Homo sapiens: one gene and its partner. Changing the gene in region 1 together with any one later gene gives a genetic interaction. Each region holds a gene or a part of one and is shown in the gene's direction. Other genes may lie near its edges.

The links. A genetic interaction does not mean that the proteins touch.
Region 2: changes in DAZAP1 (region 1) and DCAF7 together harm fitness more than expected from each alone (negative genetic interaction), as found in Homo sapiens cells (one large-scale study listed by BioGRID).

The regions. Positions count from the first base shown.
Region 1 is NC_000019.10:1,427,444-1,432,495, forward strand, and holds part of DAZAP1 (DAZ-associated protein 1), read left to right. Parts: intron 1-1,398; coding exon 1,399-1,552; intron 1,553-2,523; coding exon 2,524-2,553; intron 2,554-2,778; coding exon 2,779-2,919; intron 2,920-5,052. UniProt on the Homo sapiens protein: RNA-binding protein, which may be required during spermatogenesis.
Region 2 is NC_000017.11:63,552,862-63,556,976, forward strand, and holds part of DCAF7 (DDB1- and CUL4-associated factor 7), read left to right. Parts: intron 1-4,115. UniProt on the Homo sapiens protein: Involved in craniofacial development. Acts upstream of the EDN1 pathway and is required for formation of the upper jaw equivalent, the palatoquadrate. The activity required for EDN1 pathway function differs between the first and second arches.

The DNA.
Region 1 (5,052 bases):
CTGGAGCGGCACTTGGCGTCGCCGCCGGCCCCTCATGGGGGTTTTCCGTTTGTGGAGTGTTTGGTACCGCGTGGTAGTTAACCCTCCATGCCAGGCGACTGCATTGCTGCATTCAGGTAGGAAAGGGTGAAAGAATTTTTTTTTGTTTTTGTTTTTTTAAAGTACAAGGACCGCTCTGCTTTGTAAGCAGGAACCGCAGTCCCCTGAGGAGGGTGTGTGAAGACTCGCTCATTTGAGTTCTTTGAAATGGGTCCCTTGGTCCTGCTGTCACATTGCCTTGAGCTAACGGATCCTGTTCCCATCATAGGCCGGTCCTTGGGGCATTGGGCAGGTGGGGGCTTTGTGCCTCTGTGGCTGCTGCTGTCTGTTCTCTAACAGGCAGAACTGAGGGATTCTGAACTCAGGATGTGCAGCTCTCCAGACTGAGACCCCAAGGCTGACTCCAGGTGGATCCATTGTCTCTTTATTCTCATTACGATTTATCAGAAAAGTGAGACAAATTCAGGATTCTCAAATGCTGAGGCAGCCCCGGAATTGGGGGGATCTTTCTGTTGTTAGTCCACCCATATTTTCAAGCAGGCATTAAAGGAAGGTCAGCCACTGCGCCTAGAATAAGTAGGTCAGGCCTGCTCCATCCATTGTCCCCGGCCCCGCACCCTCCTCCTGAGAAGACTGTGGCTCCTGACACGTCTAGAGAGGAAGGGCCCCGGGCTGCTGAGCGAACACAGTATGAAGATTGCTTACTGATCCAAATGTCCATTTTATTGCATGTTTGTTACTTTTTTTGTTAGATGTAATGTAAGATTCTCTTATCACATCCATTCCCTCTGACATTAGTTTTGAGTTAATTGAGATTCTTTAAGCGTTAGCCTGGGGAAGGTAAGTCTTTATCTTCCATTAGACATTTTAAATTTAAAAATCTAAGTAAAACACCAGCCGTGTTTCTCAGGTATGAGTTAAAAGCACAGGTGGGCGGGCTCCAAGCAGTCCAGAGGGCGATGAGGATGCCGATTGCTGGGAAGATCCTGGTCCCTTTTTGTCCCCATGTTTTCAAGAGGAAGGAGGACGCTGCCATTTTACTTGAGTGAAAGACCCTTCGTCACGCACGAAACCCCCGAGGGCTCTGGGCTCGGTCCTGCTGCCCCGCAGTGGGCGGGCTCTGTGTGTCTTACGGTTGCATCTGTTGTACCTGAGAAACATTTTTTAAACAAAAAAATTCAACACAAAAGAATTTTTTAAGAAAAAAATGCTACTGGCCTAAATAAGGTTTATAGTTAAGTATTTAGTCTTAAGTTGTAAGATGCTAAGTGTAGTCATAAGTTACCCGAGGGTGTGTCTAAAGGGAAGGGGGTGCTGGGACCCGCAGCCTCGCCCTAAACCAGAGCTCGGTTTGTTTAGGTGGAAGTTAAACGAGCTGAGCCTCGGGACAGCAAGAGCCAAGCGCCGGGACAGCCAGGTGCCAGCCAGTGGGGGAGCCGGGTTGTGCCCAACGCTGCCAATGGCTGGGCAGGCCAGCCCCCGCCCACGTGGCAGCAAGGATATGGCCCGCAAGGTAAGGCTGATGCAGAGGTGCCCACGGGAATGTCCCCCTTCTCGGACTTGGCCCGCGCGCCCTGGGCTGTGCCGTCGCTGCGGCCTCCCCACCTCTGCTGTGCATGCACAGAGCCGCGGTTCACAGTGTCCTTGAGCCCCCGCGAGGTGCCGGCTGACAGCCAGCTCCCGGGCAGCACCCGCAGCCTCCTCAGTAGCGGGGTGGCCACGGCTTAGGTGCCCGTCCGGGGCCTGGGACTCATTGTCACCGGGAAGAGCTGCAGTGAGCGTCTGCACCTCGCGACCGTGTGCCACGGCAGGTCTGAGCACGAAACCCTGAGAGGGCTGGCATTGCCAAGCTGAGCTCAGAATCGGGGTGCTGCCCCTGGGGGGCTTGAGGAGCCGGCAGGCTTTGGATCCTTGCCACCTGCCGTTCCCTCTGCAGTGCCGTGGGCCCTCTGTAGTTAGGCCCACGTTGTGGGCCGTCCTTGGAGCTTCCAGCAGCCACGGAACCCCTGGGCTTGGCTGCAGCCCGACCCGAGTTGTGGGTCAGGGTTCCAGATGTACGTCGTCCGGGTCCCGAGACTGTGGCTTCCCTGCACCTCGTCTAAAACCTTTTTCTCTGGAGCCTCCCTTGTTGGAAACTCGGAGGTGCTGTGGGGACTGTCCCTGCCCTCTCGAGGCTTAGAAGTCTCAGGTTTCTCTGGGGTCCTCAGGTGGAGCCGGGAGGTCACCCGTGCCCCAGTCAGCAGACACAGTGCCCGCCACCTGGCAGGGCACAGAGGAGAGTGGCTTTAAGGCCTGTTCTACAAGGGGTGGGGAGTGCTTCTCTGCTCAGGGTTCAGAGGGCTCTGCCCTCAGGACGAACAGGCTCTAAGCACAGGAGGCTCCGGGGTTGGTCCCAGCCCTTGACGTCCATGCTCTGCGGCTCCTTCTCTGCGTCGGACAGCTGGTGGACACGGCGCCAACCTCCTCTTCTGTTCTCTTATCTAGGAATGTGGGTGCCGGCAGGACAGGCGATTGGTAAGTCCTTGTTTATAGAGCAAAGGCGGGGACAGAAGCCACATGGCAGGCTGACTCGCCAGGTGTCCTGGGGCAGCCGGCAAAGCCTGGTTCCCGTGTCCTGAGTGCTGGAGAGGAAGAGAGGGTGAGGGGCCTGCTAGGGCCCCTGGCAGGCCTGGGTCTAACTGTGGCCAGTCTGTGTTGTCCAGCGCTCTCTGTCCATCACCCCCGTACTGTGTGTTTCAGGTGGCTATGGACCGCCCCCTGCAGGAAGAGGAGCCCCCCCGCCACCCCCACCGTTCACCTCCTACATCGTGTCCACCCCTCCTGGAGGCTTTCCCCCTCCCCAGGGCTTCCCTCAGGGCTACGGTGCCCCGCCACAGTTCAGTAAGTCTAGGGGGCCTTGTGGGAGGGCCTCCCGCCTGCTCCGGAGATGCCAGGTGGTGGGCGGGGTGATGGGGAGTCTTGTGTTACACGTCTGGCCTCAGCCACAGGTGGGGTGCCGGCTGGTCAGCAGGTCACCTGCCACCAGGCCCTTCACCTGCAGATGGGCTCCATCGCCTGTGGCCTCGCTGGTTAGGCTAAAGGGCAGCCCGGGCTCCTGCGGGTTGGAGAGCTCATAGCAGGAATGTCTGGGCCCAACCAGTTCTCACAGGCTCCTCAGGAGACAGAGCCTGGACTTCGTGTCTTAGCCTCATACTTCAGGATTAGGGGGGCATTTGTTTAAGGGTGTACAAGCTCTAATTGTTTTTTTTTTTTTTTTGAGATGGAGTTTCACTCTGTAGCCCAGGCTGGAGTGCAGTGGCGCAATCGCGGCTCACTGCAAGCTCCGCCTCCTGGGTTCACACCATTCTCCTGCCTCAGTCTCCCGAGTAGCTGGGACTACAGGCGCTCGCCACCACGCCCGGCTAATTTTTTTGTATTTTTAGTAGAGACGGGGTTTCACCATGTTAGCCAGGGTGGTCTCGATCTCCTGACCTTGTGATCCGCCTGCCTCGGCCTCCCAAAGTGCTGGGATTACAGGCGTGAGTGACTGCGCCCAGCCTCACAGGCTCTAATTCTTGACTAATTTTCCTGTACACGTCACTTGTAATTGAAAAGCTGAGTGTAAGATCAGCCGACACACCCAGAGTTTTATTTTATTTTATTTATTTATTTATGGTTTTTTTTTGAGATGGAGTCTCACTCTGTCGCCCAGGCTAGAGTGCAGTGGCGCCATCTCGGCTTACTGCAAGCTCCACCTCCTGGGTTCACGCCATTCTCCTACCTCAGTCTCCTGAGTAGCTGGGACTACAGGCGCCCACCACCACGCCTGGCTAATTTTTTTGTATTTTTAGTAGAGACAGGGTTTCACCGTGTTAGGCAGGATGGTCTCGATCTCCTGACCTCGTGATTCGCCCGCCTCGGCCTCCCAAAGCGCTGGGATTAGAAGCGTGAGCCACCGCGCCCGGACTATTTTATTTATTTTTTTGAGATGGAGTTTCACTTTTGTTGCCCAGGATTGAGTGCAGTGCCCCGATCTTGGCTCACTACAACCTCTGCCTCCTGGGTTCAAGCGACTCTCCTGCCTCAGTGTCCTGAGTAGCTGGGATTACAGGCGTCTGCCACCACGCCCGGCTAATTTTGTATTTTTAGTAGAGAACAGGTTTCACTATGTTGGTCAGGCTGGTCTTGAACTCCTGACCTCAGCGCATCCAGAATTTTAGACGGGGCCCCCAGGGTGAGGTCTTGGCACCCTCCAGTAGAGAAGAAGGGACATGGGCCATACGTGGGGTGTCCTTTCTGGGAGCCTTGCGTCCCTTACCTGCCTAGCCAGGGATTGCACCTCACAGCACGCAGCCAGCAGGAACGGCACCGTGATCTGATTTCACCTGCGGGCCCTGGGCCCTGGGGGTGTTTGACAATTGGGGCATATCACAGTGTGAGCTAGTCCCGTCTCGGGGGTTTGGAGGCTCCACGTGGCCGTGGTACAGGAGCAGGCAGTTCCATCCTCTGGCCTGGATCAGGCTCTGCACACGGAGGCCTGTGGGCCAGATGACTGACAGGAGGGGAGTTGGGTGGAACCTCGGCCTGCCTGATATCCAGCAACAGAGGGCAAGGGCGGCAGCACCTCCAGCATGACAGTCCCTTCCAAGCACGTCAGGATGCTCCCTTGCCTGTGCTGGCAGCTTCCTAAACATGGGGACTGGGCATGGTGGCAGGTTTTTGTCCTTCTGAAAGAGCAATTTTGCTGTGAGGTTACTTGCTCCTTGAGTTCTTGTCTGAGGCCCACCTGGCGGCTGCTCCGTGAGGAACGAGGTGGCCCTGCTGCAGCTCAGCATCCCGCCACGCTCCCAGGAGTGTGTGTTTCCTGGGGGGAGCGGCCCGGGACCGTGGCTCTGTGGTCCATTCTGTGGATGTCCACAAGGCCTGGGCGTTCTGTGGGTTTGGGTGGCAGTCCCGTCTGGGCAGCTCCTGCTGGGCTGGGTGTGGGTCTCCTGCTGGTCTGCCCCCAGCTGCACAACGTGTCTTGTGCCTTGC
Region 2 (4,115 bases), on another chromosome or scaffold:
TGGCTTAGCAGTGAAATGCAAACTAATAACCCCACTATCAACAGCATTAGCAGTTAACTATATCTTAACTCACATGATGTAGGCAATGCGCTGTCTTAAAATCATTTTTGTGCCTCCACCTATCAGTAGATCAGGGTTCTTAAATTCTGTGTGCCATGGTCATCTGATACCAATAGACCCCTTCTCATAGTTATGTTTTCAAATGCATAAAACACATAGAATTACAAAAGAAACCACTTATGTTGCACTACAGATATAAACAACATGTTTTTTAAAGTGGTGATGTAGTCATATGTACTTTTAATAAATTAACTTATTGATTTACACCATCCACTGTAATTATTAATGTAATTTTGAAATGGTGACAAGGGTAAACAGCATTTCAAGATGCTTAACAACTGTGCTGTGGTGGGAAAAAAAAATTCTCTTGCTGGCAAAGTCACAGACAGTCATACCACTGTGAGCACCTGACCCCATTTGTAATTGAAGGAAACAAAAAAATTTAGCTAGAGGTTAATGGAAATATGGGGATAATTTTCCAATTCAAGTTCACAGACCCCAAGTTAAGAAACCCTGCGAGAGAGAAGTATGTGTAGTGGTTGGTGAGCAGCAAATCCTGCCTTAAAGTGATTCTCAGGCTAAGTTTGTGAGAAACCCTGCCAAAGAGGTGGTCGACTTCATAATTTGGAGGAACTTTAGAATTATTGGTTGGAATTTTTAGACCATTGGTTCCTGCTTGCCATGGATAGTGGTCACCAGCAGAGGATAAAGTAAAATGGACACAGCAAATTAACACTGATGAAAAAGGCTAGAAGTGGTCATCTTTTTAGTGTGGAGACATTCACTAAGAAAACATGGTTGTAATTTTTAAAAATTTGCATTAGCATAATCATGTTTTCCTAACGTAAAATTGTACCTAGTTGATCCATAGAATTAAGTCTATCAACAGTTTAAGAAATTGACTTCCAGGTGTTCCTTCATGTGAATAAATTTGGGAATTGTTGCAGAGTAAAGAAACAGATTCTATCAACTACACTTGGAATAAAAAGCCCCATTATAGGGCTGGGCGTGGTGGCTCACACCTGTAATCTTAGCACTTTGGGAGGCTGAGATGGGAGAATCGCTTGAGCCCGGGAGTTTGATACCAACCTGGGCAACATGGAGAAACCCTGACTCTACAAAAACATTAAAAAATTAGCCAGGTATGGTGGCATCTGCCTGTAGTACCAGCTACTTGGGAAGCTGAGGTAGGAGGATGCTTTAAGCTCAGGAGGCAGAGGTTATAGTGAGCCAAGATCACGCCACTGCACTCCAGCCTGGGCGACAGAGCCAGACCCTGTCTCAAAAAACAGCCTCATTATTGGTTATTATGTTTCTACCTTCTTTTGTTGTGGTCTCTTGAGGGATACAGCAAGATTGGTGTTGGAGCAACAGGTTCTCTAAATTTTAGTGTGTGAGAATCCTGAGGGAGCTGCACATTCCTGGGCTCCACCCCTGAAGTTAACAGACTTGGAGATAGGTGACAGACACACTAGTGGTTGAGTGGTCCAGATGGCACTCTCAGAACATGGCCCTGGAGCTGCCTTGGCATCTGTTGGCCAGAGGCGAGAATGTGATCTTTTTGTGTCTGCATGCTCCTAAACATTGGTTCTGCCCTTCCATCCAAGTTCACCCATGAAAAAAGCTCTGTGATTAGCCTGGGTTATCTAAGTCCTGCCACTTCCCAGTTTTGTATTGCCTTGGGCAAGTTATCCTCTGTGTCTCAGTTTCATCATCTGTAAAATTAGGGCAATAAATAATAACATCTACCTTGTTCAAAGATTAAATGAGTTAATATATGTAATGGACTTAGGAACGCCACCCGGTGTGGAATAAGCCATATAGAGATGTTAGCTGTTATTTAATTATTATCATTACTGTACCTGTAATTGAAATATAACCAAAGAGAATTATATGGCTGTTTAGTAAATTTACTTTTGTATTTTCCAGAAAGGATTCAGGAATAAGAGGTCAGAAAGGTAGCTGAAAAGGTCATTATTTCATTCTCTGCCTTTTAAAGACTCTGGGGGGAAAATTCCCTTATCTCTTTCAACCCAACTCATTTTGTAGTCTAGCAGATTCTTATAGTCAGACTCCAAGTAGTGTAATTTTCTAGTTTAAATCCATTTTCTCTTGTTCTACCTGGCTTACCTACGTAAGTCAGATATAAGAATTTGGCATTTCTCCTGTGTTTTGACAATATGTTTGGTCTTTAGGCCCAGGTGTTATTTCCCCTCTTTTATTGGGAAAAGCTGGGTAGCAGTTCCTGGGCTTCTGTTCCACTTAAGTGCATGTTTCAGGGTTGGTTTTGATAAAGATGGCAGTGTGATTGGGATTTAGTTTGCCCCAGTATTTAACTGACTACTTGTGCTCTAAGATTTGGCATCCAGAGAGTATTTTTGAGGTTCTGAGGAGAGACTGTAGGTATATCTGATGCTTTTTGGAGAATCCTAGTAGTGAGTCTGGGTGGCATGACCACCTTGTACTTGAAACACTGGGATGGGTACTCACCTCACCAGCCTGTGTTGATTCCTCTGAGGTTTTTAATACAATTACTTTATATGTTTGATGCATAATTATTTCGACTCCGGTATTTAATTTTTCATCTTGGTATTTGCGGTAGCCCTTCAGGATTATCATTCATTTGCTCATTAATTTAGCCGGTCTGTATTGAACACATACTCATGTGTTTTAGGCACAATGTGTTTTGGTACACATCAGTACTTTTGATAGATATTTAGAATGTCGCAGTGTTCCACGAGTCCCTGTCAAGACTGTCAGCAGGGGAATTTAAGACATAAAACTCTTCTGGTTTTAACTTCCTCCTTTTTCTAGACAGTGAGAGGACTCATTCCCTGTTGTGACCACTGGATAAAAGTGATAATGCTTTAAAAAAAAATGCTACTTTATTGCTTTTTGTCCTAATCTTGTTCACATAGACTTATTGGAGATGCTGTCACTTGAACAAGGAGTGAATCTATGCTCTGTAGGTAGCCTGGCTTGCCTAAGGACTTGCTGCCAAAGCTCTCGCTGCCAGAGCTCTCTGGTCAGCCTCTGAGCCACGAGCCAAAGGTGTGCTGTGCCAGAATTCATCTTAAAGTTTAATAGGGCAGGACCTTGGGTACCTGCAGACACTGGTCCTTGGTAATCAGTCAGGAAGAGGCTTGAAGAGAAAGCAAATAGAAAAGACCAGGAAAAGCTAGTGTATATTCTCAGAATATTGTGTTAGCCGATTTTTGTTTTATTAACAATTGTGGGAAAATGTTCCAGTGACTGGAGTGTTATGTTGATTTGGATAACTTGGGAGCTTATTTTAAAAATTACATATACATACACACATTCACCTTCTTCTTCTGCACTAGGACTGTGTGTGTTAAAGTGGAATATGGCCAGGCGCAGTGGCTCATGCCTGTAATCCCTGCACTTTGGGAGGTGGATGCAGGCAGATCACCTGAGGTCGGGAGTTCAAGACCAGCCTGACCAACATGGAGAAACCCTGTCTCTACTAAAAATACAAAATTAGCCAGACATGGTGGCACATGCCTGTAATCCTAGCTACTTGGGAGGCTGAGGCAGGAGAATAGTTTGAACCTGGGAGGCAGAAGTTGCAGTGAACGGAGATTGTGCCACTGCACTCCAGCCTAGGCAACAGAGCAAGACTGTTTCAAAAAGAAAAAATAAATCAGGGCCGGGCGCAGTGGCTCATGCCTGTAATCCCAGCACTTTGGGAGGCTGAGGCTGGCGGATCACGAGGTCAGGAGTTTGAGACCAGCCTGACCAACATGGTGAAACCCCGGCTCTACTAAAAATATAAAAATTAGCCAGATGTGGTGGTGCGTGCCTGTAATCCAAGCTACTTGGGAGGCTGAGGCAGGAGAATCACTTGAACCTGGGAGGCGGAGGTGTGGTGAGCCAAGATTGTGCCACTGCACCAGCCTGGGTGACAGAGTGAAACTCCATCTCAAAAGAAAAAACAAATTAGCTGGGAGTGGTAGCATGCACCTGTAGTCCCAGCTACTCAGGAGGCTGAGATGGAAGGATCACTTGAGCCCAGGAGGTCAAGGCTGCAGTGAGCC